3 separate regions of the Homo sapiens genome follow, and regions 2 and 3 are each linked to region 1. Evidence: fine-mapped expression QTL. A gene starts in region 1. Each other region holds a variant in brackets. All regions are shown on one strand. Distances are between the middles of the regions.

Region 1 (8,180 bases):
GTCCTCATCATCGTTGCTGGAGGTCAAGGAGTCTACATCAGGGACAGAGGGAAGCATCTAAGGTCCAAGAGGGGCAGGTCTGTCTCCCCAGGCATCCCTTCACTCCCTGCTAGAGTCTCTTACCACCTGTAATCAAGGTGAGATTCTGCAGGACGATCATGGAGCCTCGTGCCAGGCAGAGGTAGCGGCCAGCATCCTCAGGTAGGAAGCTGGCAATCTCTAGGCGGCCCCTCCAGCCCCGTACACGGCCAGCAGGTGCCAGGCGACTGCCCTCCTTGTACCAGTGGCCACCACGCTCAGCCCGCCCACAGCACAGACGCACAGGCTGCCCAAGGGCTACTGTCAGCTCCTGCTCTTGCTGCTCCAGGCTGGGAGCCAGGCAGGGCTCTGTGGGCAGAGGGCAGAGGTCAGCAGACCCCGCAGCCCCATCTGAGGCAGCCTCCTGTGTACAAAGAACACACCGCACATGCAGGGCACAAGCACTTTGCAACGCATGCTGAAGGAGCCACCACTCCTTGACACCCACACAGCCACATGCTGCGGATGCCACACCCAGGGCAAATGCCACACTCTTGGGGCATGTCACACACACAGCATTTAGTGCACACGACAGTGGCCAAGACACACACACACACACACACGCATACACACACACACATACGGACACACACACACACAAGGCACATGCTGTTGGTGCCACATACAGGGTCATGCTGCACCGGGGCATATCACCCTCATAATGCTTATACCACACATGCTGCCTGGACCTCCTAGGTCACACACCCAGTGCACAGAACACACACACACACGCACACACACCCAGGTAAGGAGCTCACCACCAGCTCTGCAGCCCAGCTTAGGGCCCTGCGCCCTGCAAGGCCAGTCCTCTCTCGCAGACACAGTGATAGATGAATGCTTGCTGGAAGCCAGGCACTGACTGAGTCTCAGTGGTTGAGCCCTGCCCTGCCGCCACCTTCTCAGGGCCTGGGCAAGGATCCTTTCCAGCTTTGCTCAGCCCAGCAGCCCCCTCCTGGTGCCCACTCTTCCCACCCCTGCCACCCTCTCCCACCTCAGAAGCCATACCAAGCTCCACTTCCTCAGAGGCCTCCAGGGACAAGACTGGAGGCCCAGGCACACTCAGCAGGACCCCCAACAGGGCCAGCAGCAGCCGCATCTCCTTCTCACAGCTCTCAGGGACCCAAGCTGGACTTCCCACCAACTGCCTTCCTAAAATAGGGAGGGAAAAGAGCTCCTGCTACACGTGCACCTTTGTGGGGGCTTTTCCCTTATTTTGCAGATAAGGAAACTGAGACAGGAAGTGGCCAGCAGATGTGTCCAAGTCCCTGGCCAGGCTGTGGCAGTGCAGACTGGAACCAGCTCTGTAGTAGCCAGAGCCTAAGGCCTCCCCACGGTAGGTTGTGCAAGGGGTCTGGGCTGGGCTTCCTGCTCTCCCTGAGTCCTGCTGGGACCCTGGCACACGTTCACAGAAAGCAGTTTTGGGATTCTTTTTTGGAGGGAAGCAGAGAACGGAGACATATCTTCTGCATGCTCTCGGCACACATAATTTCTTTTTTGCTAAATAAATGAATTGATTGCAGAAGAGCCAAAAAAGAAAGTGAAAAATGACACAAGGTCAAACTTCAGCATCTGGATGGCATCTGATCCGATCCCCACTCCTTACAGCATTACTGACATTTCCAGGGCTGGGTGGTCACAACTGACAAGGCGGCCCCTTCCGTGGCAAGCAGGACCGCGACCCTGGATACCTCTGCTTGTTATGCACCAACTCCATCTGAGGCACACACGGTTTTGTAAAGAATACAGACCCTAATTTTCCATCTGCCAGAGCCAAGTTCAAATCCTGACTCTCACCAACTTGTAATTCCTTGTCTCTGTCTCTCTCTGGCTTACTATCCTCATAGGACTGTTTTGAGGATAAAAGAGAGAACGTGCGTCGGCACGCAGAGTGTTGGAATGTTCTCCTCCCTGTGCCCGGCCCTAGAACGGTTAACCTGTTGCCCTGGGTCTGCCCTTAGCCAGTCACCTCTGGTTCGGATGCTGTTACTGTCAGGCTGTGATGTACACACACCCCAGCTGGCTATCCTCTTCCAAATGCTACCAAGGACGCCTCTGTTCCCCAAAATAGAACACTCAGAACTGAGTCTCAGCTGGGACAAAGGAATCGGTGACCACTGCAGTCCTAGGGGCCTATGGGTGGCACTGGTGTCTCTGGATCTACCCTGCGTGGGAAGCCTATCACACCTCCTCCTCCTTGGTCACTGCCACTCCACTTCCAGTCCATCTGGCTTCCCCTGCCCCTTCTCAAGGCAGGTCATGGCCATCTCTTGCATGGGCCTCTGGAAACATCCTCTCCCTCGGCTCTTCAACCTTCATCTTCCAGCAGAGTTTTAAAAAACTACAAGTCGGCTGGGCGCGATGGTTCACACCTGTAATCCCAGCACTTTGGGAGGCCGAGGTGGGCGGATCACGAGGTCAGGAGATCGAGAACATCCTGGCTAACACGGTGAAACCCCGTCTCTACTAAAAATACAAAAAATTAGCCGGGCGCGGTGGCGGGCGCCTGTAGTCCCAGCTACTCGGGAGGCTGAGGCAGGAGAATGGCGCGAACCCGGGAGGCGGAGCTTGCAGTGAGCCGAGATCGCGCCACTGCACTCCAGCCTGGGCGACAGAGTGAGACTCCGTCTCAAAAAAAACAAAATAAAAAAATAAAATAAAATAAAAAAACAAACAAAAAAACCTGCAAGTCTGCCATGTCATGCCCCCCAGCTTGCAAGCCCTTAATGGCTACCTGTGCCCAGCAGGATCCAGCTCAACATCCTAGGGCTCCCTCTCTGCCGCTGCCTATCTCTTTGGTCACACCGTCTGCCCCTTCAGGAGCGCTGAAGCCATTGGCTTTCAAAACTGGGCACATGTGCTCTCTTGCCCATCCCTCTGTGCCCCTCATTGCTCTTCTCTACCTGACTCAGATACTGCTGTCTCTGGCCCACCTCAACTCTCGAATCCAGTCGGATCCTCCTTGGTAAAACTCCCTACCAAGCTCGGCTTGGCAGGGAGGGCAGCTCTTTGGGTACACAGCTTGGGCTGGGAGTGGGTGGGGAGGCCCGGGGAGTTTATTCCTACCCCAGGCTGCCCTGATATCAGAGTCCTTAGTCGAGTCACCCATGGCTGCTGACCGCTGACCGACCACCCCCCACGTGGGAATGGAGGGCCTGCCTTAGGCATCAGACAGTCCTGGGTTCTCCTTCAGCCTCCCGCACTCGCGCTGGAGGCCCCCGGGCACTAAGTGACTGAACTTTTCGGGGCCTCAGGTCCCTCATCTCTGCCGCCGGCGCGAAGACAGCCGCAGGGACAAGCGCGCTTGTCCTCCCCCACCCTTGCCGGGCCAGCCTGGGGGGAGGTGCGAATCAATGGGTCCCGAGGGTAGCTGCACAGGGCCAGCCTGCCCCCGCCTCGGTGGGCAATGAGTAACCAGCTCCGCGGCCGGGGTGCTCTTTGGACGGAGCGGGACAAAAGGCCCTGTGTGCACTGCGGGTTACTGATTTACCGCCCCCTCCACCCCCTGCCGCCCGGCGGACGCCCAGGTCCCCTGCGCCGGGAGGGGCAGTCCCCGTAGCCCCGCCGCCTCTCGCCCCCTGGCGGCTGGGAGCGCAGCCCGGGCCCACAAGGGTTCCGGCTCACCTCGAGCCTGCGTGACTCCGCGCCCAGCACAGGGTCCTGCTCACCTGGCTCCTCCTCACCTGGCTCCTCCGCCGCCTCACTCCCAGCTCCAGCCGGCCGCGACCCCTGCACGCGGCAGGGTCCGCAGACAGCCCGAGCGCTCCTCGGCCGGGAGCGAGGAATGTACCCGCGACGGCGGCGTGGCCGCGAGCGGCCCACCTCCTGTCCCACCCCGCCCCTCGGGCCCGCCCCCTCCTGCTCGGGCCCGCCCCTCCTTCCACGCCCCCCCCCCCCCCACCCGGGCCCGCCCACCTCCTGCCACACCCCCTCGGGCCCGCCCCGCCTAGACCAGCTCGAGCCGGAGAGAGGTGTGGCCAGGGGTGGCCAAGATCCCCGCCCACCTGGAGAGCCCCGCCCCCGACCCAGTCAGCCCACTCCCGGGACCCCGCCCCAGCCTATACACACACCCCTACACGCAACCCCCCTATACACACCCCATTCAGGCTCCGCCTCTTTCGCCCCACCCAGGCCCCAGGCCAGGCTCCTAAATTCTAGTCTACTACCCAGCTCTACTCCTTGCTTTTCACCCTTCAGGGAATGCCTGGCTCCCCTGTCTTCTGCGCAGTGCCGTGCAGCGGATAGGAGAACCCCTTCCTTCTGCTCCCTCATTTGTTCCCTGCGCAACCTGCGGAGTGATACTTACAACACAAATCTGACTGTGTCAGCCACTCCCTTAAATTTTCCTATAGATTCCCATAGCTCTTTATACATAGATTGCCATGACCCACGCCTCCTGGCTCCCACCCTGCTACTCCTGGGCAGTTTCACGTACCATTCTCTCTTCCTGGAATGGCCCTTGGTCTGGTTAATTTCATATTATTCTCAGCTCACTTCCTTCAGGAAGCCCTCTGGACTTGCAAGCTCCTCTTAGATGACGTCTCTACTGTGAGGATGGAGAAAGAAACAGGGTGAAGTGGTTCAGAGCACAGACTACAGGGCTGGACGTCATAGGCCCAGCTCTCAGCACCATCACACAAGGCCTCAGTCTTCACTGTCCTTTCAGTAAAACAGGCAAATGATAGTCTCACCCACAAGAGGTTGTTGCAAAAAGTAGACATGTTAGCAGTATGTGTAAGCCTGGCATGCAGCGCTTGCTTTGTAATACTAGCTGTAATTATTTAGGACCTGTTATTTCTTCAGCACGCTTGCCAGAATTGTAACTGAACAGTTAATTATGTAAATAGCTGTGGAATGGCCGGGCACAATGACGGGTGCCTGTAGTTCTAGTTACTAGGAGACTGAGGTAGGAGGACAGCTTGAATTCAGGAGTGTGAGGCCAGCCCTGGCAACATAGTTGCCCTGTCTCTATTTTTCAGTAGAGGAACTGTGTCCTCAGACCTCACCATTAGAGTTCAAGTGTCTGGCATACAGTAGGTGCTCCCAGATAGCTCCGTGCCCACCTGGCTCATGTTTGCCTCACCTGTAAGCACTTCTCTCCTGAGCATCTAGACTGTGGCCAAACCAGGAGGCCAGGCAGCCTCTGATCTCTGCCCATCCCTCACCTGAATCTCAAGCCTTCTCCTTCTCTTAAGGCACCTTGAGAGGAAGGGAAATGGGCTGGGTGCACCTGTGGTCCCAGCTACTTGGGAGGCTGAGGCCAGAGGATTGCTTGAGCCCAGGAAGTCGAGGCAGCAGTGAGCCGTGATCGCTCCACTGCACTGTAGCCTGGGCAACAGGCTATGGAGCGAGACCCTGTCTGAGGCTCAGGTCCTGGTTGTCCCCTCTAGCTAGTGTAGACCCTGTCTTAAGAAGCAACTTCCTTTCTCATTGTTACGCAGGCAAGTCTAGTTCTTTCCACCCTCACTCCCAAAGGGATAGTGGCATATCTTTGCATAACTGTAAGGCCCATTAAAGAGACTTAAAATTGTTTTTTTCTTTTTCTTCTTAAGCGAAAGAATGGTCTCCTCCCAAAGATAAATCAGAAAATAATTGAGGCCAGGCATGGTGGCTCATGCCTATAATCCCAGCACTGTGGGAGGCTGAATCGGGAGGATCGCTTGAACTCAGGAGTTCGAGGCCAGCCTGGGCAACATAGTGAGATCTCGTCTCTATTAAAAATATATATTAGGCTGGGCACGGTGGCTCACGCCTGTAATCTCAGCACTTTGGGAGGCTTAGGTGGGTGGATCACGAGGTCAGGAGTTCAAGACCAACCTGGCAAGATGGTGAAACCCCAGCTCTACTAAAAATACAAAAAAATTAGCCAGGCATGGTGGCATGTGCCTGTAATCTCAGCTACTAGGGAGGCTGAGGCAGAGAATTGCTTGAACCCGGGAGGTGGAGGTTGCAGTGAGCCGAGATCGTGCCATTGCACTCCAGACTGGGTGACAGAGTGAGACTTTGTCTCCAAAAAAAAAAAAAAATATATATATATATATATATGTGTGTGTGTGTGTGTGTGTGTGTGTCTGTGTGTGTCTGTGTGTCTGTGTGTATATACATACACACAGACACACCCACACATATATATGTATATTATAAATTTTTTTTTAATTGGTTATCTTTTAAAAACAATTTGTCCTGGTTCCCTTCTCTAGAGTCCTGCCTTGCTGGAGCTCCCAGGACAGATGAGGCTCCTGGCCCTGGGAGCTGCCTGCCCAGAGGGTACCTTGCCAGACCTCCCGGACTGCTGGAGGGGTTCAGCTCCCTGCCTCTGGCCCTCTGCTGGCTCCCCTTGTGAATGTGGTTGTGGGGGGAGACAGGGTGAGCCGCCAGCTGGAGCTGGACCCCACATGGCTTTCATTCACCTTCCCGGGCATTTCCTGAGTTTACCAGAGCCAAAGACAAACTAAAAGTTTTCATAGCTCAGGTCTTGCAACCTCCTTGTCTCCTGAGATGCGCAAATCCCTCAGATTTGCAACCCTCTGATGTCCCTAGGATATGTTCCCCATATCCCTTGTCTGCCTCCTCTCCCCGCACTCATAACCTTTCACACTGACCCTCCACAGAGGCTGATGCTCCCTCACAAAGTCATTCACTCATTCACTCATTCATCTGAATGATTATTTATTGAAGGTTCATTATGTGGCATCCACTGTTTTAAATCCTGGGGATAAAGCCCCGAATTGGACTCTTTTTCTTTTCTTTTCTTTGGGAGACAGTGTCTTGCTCTGTTGTCCAGGCTGGAGTGCAGTGGTGTGATCTTAGTTCACTGCAAGCTCTGCCTCCTGGGTTCAAGTGATTCTCCTGCCTCAGGCTCCTGAGTAGCTGGGATTACAAATGTGCACTACTACACCTGGCTAATTTTTATATTTTTAGTAGAGACAAGGTTTCACCATATTGACCAGGCTAGTCTCAAACTCCTGACCTCAAGTTATCTGCCCATGTCAGCCTCCTCAAATGCTGGGATTACAGATGTGAGCCACCTCACCTGGCCTGGACCCTACTTCTACCCTTCAAGGGGCTGCTGACATTGTAGTGGGGACAGACAGATAAGTAATCAGTTACAGCCTGGGAGATAAGCTGAGCCAGTCAGGGAGAGCACCTAAGCCTTTCACACTGTCTCACTCTCTTGCTGACACGCAATCTTTCACCAGTCACATTTGCAGTCTCTTTCTCAAAGACATTCAGACACGACTGGGCACAGTGGCTCACTCCTGTAATCCCAGCACTTTGGGAGTCTGAGGTGGGCGGATCACTTGAGGTCAGGAGTTCGAGACCACCCTGGCCAACATGGTAAAACCCCATCTCTACTAAAAATACAAAAATTGGCCAGGCATGGTGGCACACGCTTGTAATCCCAGCTACTGGGGTGGCTGAGGCAGGAGAATCACTTGAACCTGGGAGGCAGATGTTGCATTGAACCAAGATCACGCACTGCACTCTAGCCTGGGAAACAGAGCAAGACCCTGTCTCAAAAAAAAAAAAAAATACATTCAGACACACACACACACACACACACACACTCTCTCTCTCTCTCTCTCTCGCTTAGCAGAGGCAAGAGCCTGTCACCCTAAGATCCTGCTGTTAACCTGCCTCTGCCTCAGTTTCCCCACCCAGAAAGCCGTCATGCTCCAGCTTCCTCTTCTTCCTTTTTTTTTTTTTTTTTTTGTGGAGATGGAGCCTCGCTCTATTGCCCAGGCTGGAGTGCAGTGGCGTGATCTTGGCTCACTGCAACCTCCGCCTCCCAGGCTCAAGCAATTCTCCTGCCTCTCCTGCCTCAGCCTTCCTAGTAGCCGGGACTACAGGCGCCTGCCACCACACCCAGCTAATTTTTGTATTTTTGTAGAGACGGGGTTTCACCATGTTGGCCAGGCTGGTCTCGATCTCCTGACCTCAGGTGATCCACCCGTCTCGGCCTCCCAAAGTGCTGGCATTACAGGCGTGAGCAACGGCTCCCGGCTGCTCCAGCTTCTTTCTTCCTAGGAGTGTTGGGGGAAATGAACGTGTTCCTGTTCCTGAGCTCGTGACTCTTCAGCTCCCGTTACATGCCAGGCATCATG
Region 2 (8,180 bases), 38 kb after region 1:
AAAAAAAAAAAGGTAAAAACAAGGAATTCATCCTTTACCAATGAGTGGTGAATGGATCCTGCAAGTCAGCAGAAGATTTCCATGCTTTCTCTCACTCTACAGATGTTCCTTGACTTACAATGGGGTTACATCTAGATAAACTTATTACCAATTGCTGCCTAGCAGTGCAAGAGAAGTACAGTTTCTACTCAACATCTATTGCTTTCACACCATCGTAAAGTTGAAAAAAATCATAAAGCTGAACCATAGGAAGTTGGGGACCATGTGTACGTGTAGTTTTAGTAGTTTTTCTTAGTACCAGTATCTCCTTAACATAACCACAACCAAAGAATGGGGGAGGCAAAACTTTAATGTAGGGGTCTAAATTCTGCTGATAGGAAGCAACCTTTTCTCTCTCAGGGGTTCACCTTTGTGGAGGTACAAAGTAAGAACTATCAGAACATGAGATTCTGATCTAATCCGCTAAGGGTCCTTGGCCCAAATCTGGCTTGCAGACAGGTCTGACTTACACAGGGTTTAAAAATAGTTTTTTTTTTTTTTGGCTGGGCTTGGTGGCTAATGCCTCTAATCCCACCACTTTGGGAGGTCATGGCGGGTGGATCACTTGAGGTCAGGAGTTCGAGACCAACCTGGCCAACACGGTGAAACTCTTGTCTCTACTAAAAATACAAAAAAAATTAGCCGGAAATTAGCCATGTGGGGTGGCACATAACTGTAATCCCAGCTACTCAGGAGGCTGAGGCATAAGAATCGCTTGAACACAGGAGGCAGACGTTGCAGTGAGGTGAGATGGTGTCATTGTACTCCAGCCTGGGAGACAGAGTGAGACTGTCTCAAAAAAAAAAAAAAATTGTTTTTTTGATACATGTTCTCGCTCTCACTCAGGTTGGAATACAGTGGCACAATCATATCTCACTTTAGCCTTGACCTCCTGGGCTCAAGTTATCCTCCCACCTCAGCCTTCCCAAGGTGCTGGGACTACAGACATGCGCCACATGCCCAGCTAATATTTAAAATTTTTAGTAGAGATGGGATCTCACCATGTTGGCCAGGCTGGTCTTGAACTCTTAGGCTCAAGTGATCCTCCTACCTTGGCATCCCAAAGTGTTTGGATTACAGCATAAGCCACTATGCCTGGCTGGGCTTAAAAATTTTTTAATTTAGTTACACATTTAAAAATCAGAGGGGCCGGGTGCAGTGGCTCACGCCTGTAATCTCAGCACTTTGGGAGGCCGAGGCGGACGGATCACGAGGTCAGGAAATCGAGACCATCCTGCCCAACATGGTGAAACCTTGTCTCTACTAAAAATACAAAAATTAGCCGGGCGTGGTGGTGTGTGCCTGTAGCCCCAGCTACTCGGGAGGCTGAGGCAGGAAAATCGCTTGAACCCAGGAGGTGGAGGCTGCAGTGAGCTGAGATTGCGCCGCTGCACTCCAGCCTGGGTGACAGAGGGAGACTCCATCTCAAAAAACACAAACGCAAAAACAAAAACAGAGGGATTTCTATATAAATCTGGCTTTCCAGAGTCTTTTGAAAACCTGAAAGAGGGCTGGGCGCGGTGGCTCACGCCTGTAATTCTAGCACTTTGGGAGGCCGAGGTGGGCGGATCACAAGGTCAGGAGATCGAGACCATCCTGGCTAACATGGTGAAACCCCGTCTCTACTAAAAATACAAAAAAATTAGCTGGGCATGGTGTCAGGCACCTGTAGTCCCAGCTACTCAGGAGGCTGAGGCAGAAGGATGGCATGAACCTGGGAGGTGGAGCTTGCAGTAAGCCGAGATCGCGCCACTGCACTCCAGCCTGGGTGACAGAGCAAGACTCTGTCTCAAAAAAAAAAAAAAAAAAAAAAGAAAAGAAAACCTGAAAGATATGGTAACAGCTGAGTAGGAATGGCATTCACTCTTCAGCTGACCATATCCCCTTCCTGGCTCTCATTTTAATTTCTCATCTGGCTTCTGTAGCCATCTGAGTTCGCAAACCCTACTTACAAGACCTAAGGAGGAAAAGCACAACGTCAGCTGGTCCGGGTAGCCCCAGTGGCCAAACCCTGGTCCAGCTCTGGGTGTGAGCTAGGCCCCCTCACCTGGAAAGTCAGTGACAGCAGGGTCCGCCAGCCGCCCATAGCGTGCCATTAGTTTGAGCTTGGTCTCCTGTTTTCTGTGTTTCTTGCCCACATAATGTTGTTGAGCCATGACAGGGTCGTTGAAAGTTGCATGGCAGAGGCTGCAGAACTTGTCTGGGTCTATCATCTCTCTATTCTGGTGCAAGGCTAAGGTGGAGGCCACAAGGAAAGGATTTGTAAGGCGTTTTGACAGAGCTGCAGTGAGAGAGTTCAAACAGAAACAATGAAAAAACCCAGAAGGTGTCAGGCTTTTGAGTATGCTGAATAGAAAGGGCTGTGACACCAGTTAATCCTACTGCAGATGTGGCACTGCCTGTGTGAGTCACACAGGTGAATGCATTCTCTAATTGGGAAACCTGGGAAGATTTGAGGGAGCCCAAAGACTGGCTATTTCATTCAGCGGCTTTAACTACTTTAAGCCCACAAATCCTGGTGGTTCTCATATTCTTAGGAGGCCCTGAGCTTCTCCTGTCAGGCTGCCAAGTTACAATAGACTAGAGATGCACACTTGCACTCTTGCAGGGATACCTCAGTACTTCCCAGAACTTCACAGCAAGTGGGACACGAAGTTTGGGAGTTTTATTCTCATCCTTAAAGTAATACAGTTGCAGAGCTGGGAACAAATGCACAGATACAGAAATTGAGGCTTGAGTTCCTGGAGCTCATACAAGGTCATTCAGAAAAGGTAACCATACTAGGGATGCCTTTTAGGCTACATTGCATATTATAGGCTGAGTAGAGAGAAAAGAGGACCATTAACATTTAGTTATGCGTTTTGCTCACATCTGTAATCCTAGCACTTCAGGAGGCCAAGGCAGGCGGATCACGAGGTCAAGAGATTGAGGCCATCCTGGCCAACATGGTGAAACCCTGTCTCTCCTAAAAATTCAAAAATTAGCTGGGCATGGTGGCGTGTGCCTGTAATCCCAGCTACTTGGGAGGCTGAGGTAGGAGAATCACTTCAACCCAGGAGGCGGAGGTTGCAGCGAGCCGAGATTGCGCCACTGCACTCCAGCCTGGGCGACAAGAGCGAAACTCCACCTCAAAAAAAAAAAAATTAGTGATGTGTTTTCTACATATATTTTCTCCTTTGGTCCTCAGAACTACCCCAATGAGGTAGGTATCACTTTGCCACATTATTCAGAAAAACTGAGGCTCAGATGAGTGAAGTGGCTTGCCCAAGGTGACCCA[G/A]CCAGTGAGTGAAGCCAGGTCTGTGACCCTAAAGCCTGTGCTCTCTTTGCTATGCCAGGCTGCCAGTGTGGCAAGAAGACCTGAAGGCTATAGCTCTTACTTACGCCTTCAGAAAACATCCCTGATTCTGGCCAATGAATTCAGTGAATCAGAGCCTGGTATAGGCATACATGCGAGCCTCTTGTGCATCAACATATGGCTTGATGTTGACTCTAGGCTGCGCTGCTGCCTCATAAAGCGGATGCCACGACTCACTAACAAGTCCATGTGGCTGAAATGGTGTCAACCTAGCAACTACTGCTTTAAAAATGTGGGGCCCAGAAGCCCCCACCAGTGGTGGAGGACTGATGGGGCTCAGCAGGACTCACAGATGATATGTCTCAGATGCTCTTCCATACCTGTATCACTTCAACTGGGGAAGTTTTGAGGATTTTGGGCAAGCCAGAAGAAATTTGCTGGCCTTTCCCACAATGGTTTTTCTAGTATAGGGAATTTCAGTTTCTCTGCTTGTTGATTTTGTTTCAGCAAGTCATCAAAAAAGTAATGTACATGTTGTAGAATATTTTATAATATGAGAAAATATTCTGTTTGTGGTGTTGAGTGTAAAAAAAGCAAGTTACAGGCCAGGCGCAATGGCTTGTGCCTGTAATCCCAGCACTTTGGGAGGTTGAGGCAGGCAGATAATCTGACTCAGGAGTTCTGAGACCAGCCTGGCCAACATGGTGAAACTCAGTCTCTACTAAAAAAATACAAAATTAGCTGGGTGTGGTAGTGCATGCCTGTAATCCCAGCTACTCAGGAGGCTGAGGCAGGAGAACTGCTTGAACAGGTGGGCGGAGGCTGCAGTAAGCTGAGATTGCGCCATTGCACTCCACTCTGAGCGAAAAGAGTGAAATTCTGTCTCAAAAAAAAAAAAAAAGAAAAAAAAAGAAAAAAACAAGTTACACATCAATCTGCTTCTTATGTCCTCAATTTTATAGAACAACAACAAACGCATAGGTGACAGCATGGAAAAAAGATCAAAAGCACAGAGAGTAGAGTGTGTTTCACTATTTTCCGACTTTTCCTTTCTTTTTTTTCTTTTTGAGATGGAGTTTTGCTCTTGTTGCCCAGGCTGGAGTGCAATGGCACGATCTTGACTCACTGCAACCTCTGCCTCTGGGGTTCAAGCGATTCTCCTGCTTCAGTCTCCGAAGTAGATGGGATTACAGGCATACGCCACCATGCCCAGCTAATTTTGTATTTTTAGTAGAGATGGGGTTTCTCCATGTTGGTCAGGCTGGTCTCAAACTCCTGACCTCAGGTGATCCACCCGCCTCAGCCTCCCAAAGTGCTGGAATTACAGGCGTGAGCACCCGGCCTACTATTTTCCAACTTTTCTGTAATGAATGTAGATTTTTAACATCAGAAAAGAGGTATAATGGTTGTTAAGAGAGAACGGTCATTCTTTGAGATACTGAACAGAAGCATCAGAAGTGAAAGTGTAAGTAAGTCTAGAACCATTTAATGCGCATCCAATAAAATGAGGGATATAGAGTCTGTTCTCAGAAAATAACCTGAAATGTAATAAAGTGTTCTACAGAGATGTTCACTGTAGTGTTATCTGTAACACCAAAAAGTGGGGGGTGGGGAGATTAAATGTTCAGCATTAGACGAATATTAAATGTAGTACGATGCAGTCACTAAAAATGCTTATAAAGAATTTTTTAATAACATGGGGAAATACAAATGTCATATTAAATAAAAAACATATAGAAGGCAATTGTATGGCCAGGTGCGGTGGCTCATGTCTGTAATCCTAGCACTTTGGGAGGCAGAAGCGGGTGAATCACCTGAGATCAGGAGTTAGAGATCTGCCTGGCCAACATGCCGAAACCCCATCGCTAGTAATACAAAAATTAGGCAGGGCACGGTGGCTCATGTCTGTAATCCCAGAACTTTGGGAGGCTGAGGTGGGTGGATCACCTGAGGTCAGGAATTCAAGACCAGCCTGAGCAATATGTTGAAACCCTGTCTCTATTAAAAATGCAAAAATTAACTGGGCGTGGTGGCAGGTGCCGGTAGTCCCAGCTACTCAGGAGGCTGAGTCAAGAGAATTGCTTGAACCCAGAGGGTGGAGGTTGCAGTGAGTCAAGGTTGCACCACTGCACTCCAGTCTAGGCGACAGCAAAACTCCATCTCAAAAAAACAAAAAAACAACATTAGCCGGGTATGGTGGTGGGCACCTGTAATCCCAGCTATTCAGCAGGTGGAAGCAGGAGAATTGCTTGAACCTGGTGGGGCAGAGGTTGCAGTGAGCTGAGATTGCGCCATTTCACTCCAGCTTGGGCAAAAGAGGGAGACTCCATCTCAAAAAAAAAAAAAAACAAAAAACAAACAAACAAAAAAGGCAATTGTACATACCATACGGTAAGATCATTGTTTGAGGCCAGGAGTTCAAGACCAGCCTGGGCAACATAGTGAAACCCCGTCTCTAATAAAAACACAAAAATTGGCCAGGCGCGGTGGCACGCGCCTGTAGTCCCAGCTACTTGGGAGGCTGAGGCAGAAGAATCGCTTGAACCCAGGAGGCGGAGGTTGCAGTGAGCCGAGATCGTGCCACTGCACTCCAGCCTGGGTGACAGAGCAAGACTTCATCTCAAAATAAATAAATAAATAAATAAATAAATAAATAAAAATAAATAAAAAAATTTTAAAAACCCCACACGTGTAATCCATATGTGCATACTGGTATTTTAAAACATCACCAACATATTAACAGTATTTCTCTCTTGGTGTAGGATTTAGGTGATATTTTACTTTCTTCTTTGTATCTTTTGCAATTGTTTGAAGTGGAATTATTCATAATGAGTATGCATTGTTTTTATAAAAACATGAAAGTTATTTAAAGTAGTCTATGTTTATATGCACATATACACGGAGTTAACCTAGATATACACAAAACGAATATACACACAGATATACAAAGATACATATAACAATAAGATTATAGGAGAAACAGATTATAGGAGAAACCAAAATGTTAACAGTGTTTATCTGTGAATGGTAAAATTATGGGTAACTTTTCTTTCCATTTATCCATGTTTTCCTTATCTCTTACAACATGATTATATTACTTTACATTAAAAAGTGTTTAATTTCAGAAATATAGTTATAAAGTTGTGTAATAACATGGAAATGTGCTTAAGCTGTAAAATTAAATGAAAAGTAAAAGCGGGATATAAAGGGTACCTGCATTATGATCACAACTATATAAAAACAAAGTATGTGGCAAAAGCTGAAAGTGAATATGGAAAATAATCTCGAGTATGAAATTTCAGGGACAAGGCATAATGCAGAGAATTTTCCCATTTGTGGGAAGAGAAGTCTGTGACCTTATAAAATTGGTTTTTTTTTTTTTTTTTTTGAGACGAGGTCTTGCTCTGTCCCCCAGGCTGGTGTACAATGGTGCGATCTCAGCTCACTGCAACCTCCAGCTCCCGGGTTCAAGCGATTCTCTTGCCTCAGTCTCCCAAGAAGCTGGGACTACAGGCTCGTGCCACCACACCCAGCTAATTTTTGTTATTTTTAGTAGAGATTGGGTTTCACCGTGTTGACCAGGCTGGTCTTGAACTCCTGACTTCAAGTGATCTGCCCACCTCAGCCTCCCAAAGTGCTGGGATTACAACAGGCATGAGCCACCATGCCCGGCCTATGTCCTGTGTTTTTAATACACATTATTGTATCCTCACAACCGATGAAGTAGACAGTATTATTATCATTTTATAGGTTAGGCAGTTCAGACACAAAAAAGTCATATAAACAGTAACAGTGCCAGGCTTTAAACCTGGGACTCTGTGACTTCAAAGTCCACATTCTGCTGTTTCATACCATGAATAACTAGATGTGGGTGTGATAAAAAGGTGTAATTATGAGTGGCCAGGTGTGGTGGCTCATGCCTGTAATCCCAGCACTCTGGGAAGCTGAGATGGGAGTATCACTTAAGGCCAGGAGTTCAAGACCAGCCTGAGCAATATAGTGAGAAGCCATCTCTATTTAAAAAAAAAGGTTTTGGCCGGCGTGGTGGCTTATGCCTGTATTCCTAACACTTTGGGAGGCCGAGGCAGGTGGATCACGAGGTCAGGAGTTTGAGACCATCCTGGCTAACACAGTGAAACCCCGTTTCTACTAAAAAATACAAAAAAATTAGCTGGGCATGGTGGTGGGCACCTGTAGTCCCAGCTACTTGGGAGGCTGAGGCTGAAGAATGGCATGAACCTGGGAGGTAGAGCTTGCAGTGAGCCGAGATCATGCCACTGCACTCTAACCTAGGCAACAGAGCGAGACTCCATCTCAAAAAAAAAAAATTATGAGTGATTTTTCACCCTACCTTTGAAGGCTTCCAAAACACAGTTGTCAGTAAACACAAAAAGGATAATAGTATTACTAATAGTGTAGTCTACTTCTTGGTCCAAAATAGAGAAGCAAAAATTATCAAGAAAACAATGAAATAAACATCAAAGAACTTTCACTCTTGACTAATTGCAATTAGCAGAGGTTAAAACCCCAGAAAGTCAGGAGTTAATGAGATGAAAGTGAGGGCTGAGCCCTAGTCGTGACGAGATAAAGGGGGCTATTTCAGAAGTCACTGTACTGGGAATGAATTCATGGCAGTTACAGATTGTGGGGCAGTAGTAGCAGCACTGAAGTATTCAGCTTTGAAAGGCAAGTCCCTGTCTTGAGGAGAACAGGCAGCTTTTGAGGATTAAAGTGAGTAGGCCATAACCTGAGCATGTGAAAAAGACAAGGATTTAGCTTTCAACTTGGAACATGCAGTAATAAGGGCAGGTGGATGCTGGGATGGAAAAATCTAGTGGGAGAGGTA
Region 3 (8,180 bases), 99 kb after region 1:
CCCGAGTAGATGGGACTACAGTTGCCTGCCACCACGCCCGGCGAATTTTTTGTATTTTTAGTAGACTTGGGGTTTCACCGTGTTAGCCAGGATGGTTTCGATCTCCTGACCTCGTGATCTGCCCGCCTCGGCCTCTCAAAGTGCTGAGATTACAGGTGTGAGCCACCGCGCCTGGCCTTTTTTTTTTTTTTTTTTTTGAGACGGAGTTTCACTCTTGTTGCCCAGGCTTGAATGCAATAGTGCCACCATGCCTGGCTAATTTTGTATTTTTAGTAGAGATGGGATTTCTCCATGTTGGTCAGGCTGGTCTTGAGCTCCCGACCTCAGGTGATCGAGAGGCAGTCTTTCTGTGTTGCCCAGGCTGGTCAGATCTGTCTTCTCAATTTGCCAGATTTCATATTCTTTCCCCTCAGTTGTCTTTGCTGTTTCTCCCCAAAGAGATTTGCTCTTTGGGTAGTCTTCATTATGGTAGTAGCAGACCTGAATCTAAAAAGGTAGAGTAAGGTGAATTAAAACTGAGGCCGGGCTTGGTGGCTCATGTCTGTAATCCCAGCACTTTGGGAGGCTGAGGCAGGTGGATCACGAGGTCAGGAGATCGAGACCATCTTGGCTAACACGATGAAACCCCATCTCTACTAAAAATGCAAAAAAAATTAGCCGGGCGTGGTGGCGGGCGCCTGTAATCCCAGCTACTCAGGAGGCTGAAGCAGGAGAATGGTGTGAACCTGGGAGGCAGAGCTTGCAGTGAGCCGAGATAGTGCCACTGCAGTCTGGCCTGGGCGAAAGAGCGAGACTCTGTCTCAAAAAAAATAAAAATAAAAATAAAAAATAAAATAAAAAATAAAACTGAGGACTTGATTAGTCATGATGGCTTGTGCTTCTAATCCTAGCATTTTAGGAGGCCAAGGCAGGAGGATCGTTTGAGGCCAGGAGTTCAAGACCAGCCTGGGCAACACAGCAAGACCCCCATCTCTTTAAAAAAAAAAATTAGCTGAGTGTTGTGGTGTACTCTTGTAGTCCTACCTACCTGGGAAGCTGGGGCAGGAGGATTCTTTGAACCTAAGAGTTACAGGTTGCAGTGAGCTATGATCATACACATTGCATTCAAGCCAAGGCAACAGAACAAGCCCCTATCTCAAGAAACAAAAACATAAATATAAAATCTATTTATATTAGAAATATGGCAACATTTGTACAAAGTTGCATGTGTTTTTTCCATTTCTGTTACAGTTTGGGGTTTAGAAAATTCACTTCTTGCGAATTAATATAAAATTAATTTATTTTAGGAAGTACAAATATGTCATCTTATTTGTGTTTTAATTTGTGTAATGGTAACTTGATAGGTTTTTAACCTTTTCCTGCTGCTATAACAGAATATCTTAGACTGGGTAATTTATAAACAATACAATTTTTTTTGTTCACAGTTCTGAAGTCTGGTAAATGTAAGATCAAGGTGCCTGATGAGGGCTTGCACTGTGCTTAAAAGATGGGACCTTCTTGCTGTGTCTTCACATGGCAGAAGGGTAAAAGGGGCAAACAGGTTCTCTTAGGCCTCTCTTATAAGGGCACTAGTCCCATTCATGAGTGCTGTGTCTTCATGACTTCCCTAAGTCCCCATTTCTTTCTTTGTTTTTGTTTTTTTTTTTTGTAACAGAGTCTCGCTCTGTTGCCCAGGCTGGAGTGCAGTGGCTCGATCTCGGCTCACTGCAAGCTCCACCTCCCGGGTTCACGCCATTCTCCTGCCTCAGCCTCCCGAGTAGCTGGGGCTACAGGCTCCCGCCACCACGCCTGGCTAATTTTTTTGTATTTTTAGTAGAGACGGGGTTTCACCATGTTAGCCAGGATGGTCTCGATCTCCTGACCTCATGATCTGCCTGCCTCGGCCTCCCAAAGTGCTGGGATTACAGACGTGAGCCACTGCGCCTGGCCCCAGGCCCCATTTCTTACCAACACATTGGGGATTAGATGTCAGCATATGAATTTTGGAGGGACACAAACATTTAGACCATAGTGGATAGGTCATATCTAGTTATCTAGTGAGATGTTACTGCTTTAGTATGAATTTATGTATACTTAAATAATAACTAGCTACCTCTGCATTGCATATGCAATAAATATTCTGTTAACTGTATTTAAATACAGAAGTTAAAAGTATATTTCTTTTTTTTTTTGAGGCAGGGTCTTGGTCGGTTGACTAGGCTGGAGTGCAGTGGTGTGATCTTGGTTCACTGCAACCTCCATCTCCTGGGTTCAAGCAATCCTGCCCCAGCCTCTCCAGTAGCTGGGTCTGCAGGCATGTGCCACCACACCCAGCTAATTTTTGTATTTTTAATAGAGATGGGGTTTCACCATGTTGTCCAGGCTGGTCTCAAACTCTTGTCCTCAGATGATCCTCTCACCTTGGTCTCCCAAAGTGCTGGGATTACAGACTTGAGCCACTGCGCCTGGCTAATTTTTTCATCTTTGTAATTTCTTGTTCTTTAGTCATTAAAAATATGCATTAAATGCAGAAAAGGACGTTTGTGTGTCGAGTTTTATCATGGGGAATGATTTTGTAAATTGTAAGCATCTGTGTGTGTATGTTGTTACTATCCCTTAATTTAGAATTTTTTAATCCTTTAAGTGTTTTTTTTAGAAAAACTTTAATGCTAGTATTGTACAGACTACTTCTGATAATAAGATGTAACAACCCCCTTAGGAGTAATTGAATGGTTTGAGAAGTTTGTTACAAAGTTAAGGTGGCTTTATTTAAATCTGTGATTGAGTCAGTGATTCTCTGCTCTGGCTGTAAAATAAAATCATCCGGGGCTCCCCTTTTTAAAAAATTGAGGTAAAATTCACCTAACAGGCTGGGCACGGTGGCTTACCCTGTAATCCCAGCACTTTGGGAGGCCAAGGTGGGTGGATCATGAGGTCGAGAGATCGAGACCATCTTGGCCAACATGGTGAAACCCCATCTCTACTAAAAATACAAAAATTAGCCTGGCGTGGTGGCACATGCCTGTAGCCCCAGCTGCTTGGGAGGCTGAGGCAGGAGAATTGCTTGAACCCGGGAGGTGGAGGCTGCAGTGAGCAGAGATCGCACCACTGCACTCCAGCCTGGCAACAGAGTAAGACTCTGTCTCCAAAAAAAAAAAAAAAAAAAAAATTCACCTAACAAAATCTACCATTTCAGTCATTTTAAGTGTACAATTTGGTGGCTTTTAATAAATTCACAGTGTTGTGCAATTACCACTTTCTAATTCCAGAACATTTCTATCATCCCCAAAATAAACCTTATATCCATTAAGCAGTCATTGTACATTTTCCCCTATCTCATCTTCTGGTAATCACTAATCTGCTTTCTGCCTATGGATTTGCCTATTCTGGATGTTTCTTATAAATAGAATCATACAATATGTGCCTTTTATGTCTGGCTTCTTTCGCTTGGCATGTTTTCAAGGTTCATCCATGTTGTAGCATGTATTAATACTTCATTCCTTTTGTTTCCCCATAGTGGCTACACCATTTTACATCCTATCAATAATACAGTGTACTAGAGTTCCAGTTTCTCCAGCATCCTTACCAACACTAGTTATTTTCCATTATTTAAAAAATAGCCAGCCATCAGAGTGGGTATAAAGTGATATTTCATTGTGGTTTTGATTTGCGTTTCCCTCATGATTAATGATTTGAGTTTTTTTTTTTTTTTTTTT[TTG/G]GACAGGGGCGTAGTCTGTCACCCAGGCTGGAGTGCTGTGGCACGGATATTGGTTCACTGCAGCCTTGACCTCCTGGGCTCAATTGATCCTCCATCCTCCCACTTGAGCCTCCCAACTAACTGGGACTACAAGTGCGCCACCACATCTGGCTACATTTCGTATTTTTTGTATAGGGTTTTGCCGTGTTTCCTGGGCTGGTCTCAAACTCCTGGGCTTAAGTGATCCACCAGTCTTGGCCTCTCAGAGTTTTGGGATTACAGCCCACTCTGCTGGGCTACTTTTACGTTTGATGTCTTTTTTTTTTGTGAGACAGGGTCTTGCTCTGTTGCCCAGGCTGGAGTGCAGTGGTGTGATCACAGTTTACTGCAGCCTCAACCTCCTGGGCTTAGGTGATCCCTCCTCCTTAGCCTGCCAAGTAGCTGGGACTACAGGCATTAGCTGCCATGCCTGGCTAATGTTTATTTTTATTTTATTTTTTTGAGACAGGGTCCCACTCTGTCACCCAGGCTGGAGGGCAGTGGTGTGGTCTTGGCTCACTGCAACCTCTGCCCTGGGTTCAAGCAGTCCTTTTACCTCAGCCTCCTGAGTAGCTGGGACTACCTGTGTGCACCACCATGCCTGGCTAGTTTTTTTATTTTTATTTTTTGGTAGAGATGGGGTTTCACCATGTTGGCCAGGCTGGTCTCAAACTCCTCACCTCGAGTGATACACCAGCCTCAGCCTCCTAAAGTGCTGGGATTATAAACATGAGCCACTGTGCCCAGCCAGAAATATAATTTTTAAAATTTCAGTTTTGATTGTTTATGTCTAGCATATAGGAATGCAATTGGTTTTTGTATGTTGACTTGTTTCCTGCATTGATACAAGGCAAGATAACCTTGATGAACTGTTGATTTTGTTGTTGTTTTGAGATGGAGTTTCGCTCTTGTCGCCCAGGCTGGAGTGCCAATGGCACGATCTTGGGTCACTGCAACCTCTGCCTCCCGGGTTCAAGTGATTCTCCTGCCTCAGCCTCCCAAGTAGCTGGGATTACAGGCGCCCGCCACCACGCCTGGCTAATTTTTGTATTTTTAGTGGAGACAGGGTTTCACCATATTGGCCAGGCTAGTCTCAAACTCCTGACCTCAAGTAATCTGCCCGCCTCAGCCTCCTGAAGTGCTGGGATTACAAGTGTGAGTCACTGTACCTGGCCTATAATAGTTTTTTAATGTGTTTCTTAGTGTTTTTTTTTAAACACAGGTCATGTCATCTGCAAATCGTGATAGTTTTACTTCTAAGTTGAGTATCTTTTATTTCTCTTTGCTTAATTGTTCTGCCTAGAACCCTAAGTATAATGTTCAATGATTAAAGCAGACATTGTTTTTTTTGAGATAGAACCATGCCCTGTTGCCCAGGCTGCAGTAGCTGGGACCACAGGCATGCCACCATGCTGAGCTAATTTTTTAATTTTTTGTAGAGACAGGGTCTTGCTATGTTGATGAGGCTGGTCTCTTAACTTGTGGGCTCAAGCCATCCTCCTGCTTTGGTCTCCCAAAATACTGGGATTATAGGTGTGAGCCAGTGTGCCCAGCCTTTTTTTTTTTTTTTTTTTGGAGACAGGGTCTTGCTCTGTTGCCCAGTTGCCTAGGCTGAAGTTCATCGGCATGATCATAGCTCATGGCAGTCTCAAACACACTCAAGCTATCCTCCTGCCTCAGCCTCTTGAGTAGCTGGGACTGTAGGTGCTCACCAGTGTGCCTTACTTTTTTTTTTTTTTTTTTTTTTTTTTTTGAGATGAAGTCTTACTCTGGCACCCAGGCCGGAGTGCAGTGGCACAATCTCAGCTCACTGCAATCTCCACCTCCTGAGTTCAAGTGATTCTCCTGCCTCAGCTTCTGGATTAGGTGGGATTATAGTCACACGCCACCACGCCGAGCTAATTTTTGTGTTTTTAGTGGAGATGGGGTTTTACCATGTTGGCCAGGCTGGTCTCGAACTCCTGACCTCAGGTGATCAGCCCACGACGGCCTTCTATCCTGTAGACACAGGATGCCATGTCTTGTCTCTACAAAAAAAAAAATACGTTGCATAGGATGGTCTCAAATTCCTGACCTCAAGTGATCCTCCTGCCTTGGCCTCCCAAAGTGTTGGGATTACAGGGGTGAGCCACTGCGCCCAGCTGAAAGGAAACATTCTTGTCTTGCTCCTTGTCGAAAGGAGAAAGCATTCAGTCTTGTACCTTTAAACATGATGTTAGCTTATTAGTTATGGGATTTTTGTAGAAGTCCTTTATCAGGTTGAGGCATTTGGTATTTAAAAAATCTTAACCTAGTTAACATAGTGAGATCCTATCTTATAAGGAATAAAAAGTAAATTAAATTAGCCAGGTGTGCTGGCACACCCCTGTGGTCCCAGCTGCACAGGAAGCTGAGGTGGGAGGGTTGTTTGAGCCAAGGAGGATGAGGCTGTGGTGAGCTACGATCATGCCACTGCACCCTAGCCTGGGTGACAGAGCGAGACCTTGTCTCAAAAAAGAAAAAAAACTTGTAGGTAAATTATAATATGTAGTCAAGAAAAGCAATTATCTAAATTGATGTTTAAAGAACTAGGATACATGACTATATTATTGATACTGAAATTTCACCATGGAGAATGAGATTTGTATATTTATATAGTTGTTTTTTTTTTTTTTTTGAGACAGAATTCCCCTCTTGTTGCCCAGGCTGGAATGCAGTGGTGCGATCTCAGCTCACTGCAACCTCCGCCTCCCGGGTTCAAGTGATTGTCCTGCCTCAGTCTCCTGAGTAGCAGGGATTACAGGCATGCGCTACCACGCCCGGCTAATGTTTGTATTTTTAGTAGAGACAGGGTTTCACCATGTTGGCCAGGATAGTCTCCAACTCCTCACGTCAAATGATCCACCTGCCTCAGCTTCCCAAAGTGCTGGGATTACAGGCATGAGCCACTGTGCCCAGTCTATGTTTCTCTCTATAGAAAAAAAAACCATTTTTTCCCTATATTTTTCTAAAAAAAATTCCTCTATATTTTTATTTTTTGTATTTATTGATCATTCTTGGGTGTTTCTTGGAGAGGGGGATGTGGCAGGGTCATAGGATAATAGTGGAGAGAAGGTCAGCAGATAAACACATGAACAAAGGTCTCTGGTTTTCCTAGGCAGAGGTCCCTGTGGCCTTCCGCAGTGTTTGTGTCCCTGGGTACTTGAGATTAGGGAGTGGTGATGACTCTTAACAAGCATGCTGCCTTCAAGCATCTTTTTAACAAAGCACATCTTGCACTGCCCTTAATCCATTTAACCCTGAGTTGACACAGCACATGTTTCAGAGAGCACGGGGTTGGGGGTAAGGTTATAGATTAACAGCATCCCAAGGCAGAAGAATTTTTCTTAGTACAGAACAAAATGGAGTCTCCTATGTCTACTTCTTTCTACACAGGCACAGTAACAACCTGATCTCTCTTTCTTTTCCCCACATTTCCCCCTTTTCTTTTTGACAAAACCGCCATCGTCATCATGGCCTGTTCTCGTTGGTCGCTGTCTCTTCGGAGCTGTTGGGTACACCTCCCAGATGGGGCGGCCGGGCAGAGGCACTCCTCACTCCTAGATGGGGCGGCCAGGCAGAGGCACTCCTCACTCCTAGATGGGGCGGCCAGGCAGAGGCGCTCCTCACATCCCAGACGATAGGCAGCCGGGCAGAGGCGCTCCCCACTTCCCAGACGGGGTGGCGGCCGGGCAGAGGCACTCCTCACTTCCCAGACGGGGAGGCCGGGCAGAGGCACTCCTCACTTCCCAGACGGGGCGGCCGGGCAGAGGCACTCCCCATTTCCCAGACGGGGTGGCGGCCGGCAGAGGCGCTCCTCACATCCCAGATGGGCCGGCCGGGCAGAGGCACTCCTCACTTTCCAGATGGGGCGGCCGGGCAGAGGCGCTCCTCACTTCCCATTCGGGGCGGCCGGGCAGAGGCGCTCCTCACTTCCCAGACAGGGCGGCCGGGCAGAGGCACTCCTCACTTTCCAGACAGGGCGGCCGGGCAGAGGCACTCCTCACTTCCCAGACGGGGCGGCCGGGCAGAGGCACTCCTCACTTCCCAGACGGGGCGGCCGGGCAGAGGCGCTCCTCACTTCCCAGACGGGGCGGCCGGGCAGAGGCGCTCCTCACTTCCTCCCAGACGGGGCGGCTGGGCAGAGGCACTCCTCACTTCCCAGATGGGGTGGCCGGGCAGAGGTGCTCCTCACATCCCAGATGGGGTGGCGGCCGGGCAGAGGCACTCCTCACTTCCTCCCAGACGGGGCAGCCGGGCAGAGGCGCTCCTCACATCCAAGACGATGGGCGGCCAGGCAGGGGCTCCTCACTTCCTAGACGGGGTGGCGGCCGGGTAGAGGCGCTCCTGACTTCCCAGACGGGGTGGCCGGGCAGAGGGGCTCCTCACATCCTAGACGATGGGCAGCCAGGCAGAGACACTGCTCACTTCTTAGATGGGGTGGCGG

Direction of the effects. Alleles are on the strand shown, and positions count from the first base shown. SD is a standard deviation of normalised expression in the study named.
As copies of A replace G in region 2, the expression in anterior cingulate cortex of the gene that starts at base 3,862 in region 1 goes up (large effect, 1.0 SD a copy in GTEx).
For the expression in B cells of the gene that starts at base 3,862 in region 1, allele G in region 3 goes with a higher level than allele TTG (large effect, 1.0 SD a copy in Schmiedel 2018).

What was found. PIP is the estimated chance that this variant, and not a neighbour inherited with it, causes the effect.
Region 2: its variant is the best candidate, but not a certain one, in a credible set for the expression of FGFR4 in anterior cingulate cortex (GTEx, PIP 0.78).
Region 3: its variant is the best candidate, but not a certain one, in a credible set for the expression of FGFR4 in B cells (Schmiedel 2018, PIP 0.51).

Annotation. Positions count from the first base shown.
Region 1 is chr5:177,082,597-177,090,776 of GRCh38, reverse strand. It overlaps FGFR4 (fibroblast growth factor receptor 4), which reads right to left and starts at 3,862. Exons shown (of 18, transcript NM_213647.3): 1 at 3,700-3,862; 2 at 1,084-1,227; 3 at 124-387; 4 at 1-32. The coding sequence starts at 1,174. RefSeq lists an enhancer at 3,346-3,796, silencers at 3,492-3,951, 4,202-4,251 and a promoter at 3,762-3,981.
Region 2 is chr5:177,044,843-177,053,022 of GRCh38, reverse strand. It overlaps ZNF346 (zinc finger protein 346), which reads right to left. Exons shown (of 7, transcript NM_012279.4): 5 at 2,087-2,272. Among named protein-coding and RNA genes, the nearest start is that of ZNF346, 26 kb to the right of the region's middle. The variant G/A (reference allele first, on the strand shown) is at 3,317.
Region 3 is chr5:176,983,648-176,991,827 of GRCh38, reverse strand. All of the region lies in intron 1 of UIMC1 (ubiquitin interaction motif containing 1), which reads left to right. Among named protein-coding and RNA genes, the nearest start is that of UIMC1, 19 kb to the left of the region's middle. RefSeq lists a silencer at 6,873-7,073. The variant TTG/G (reference allele first, on the strand shown) is at 3,696.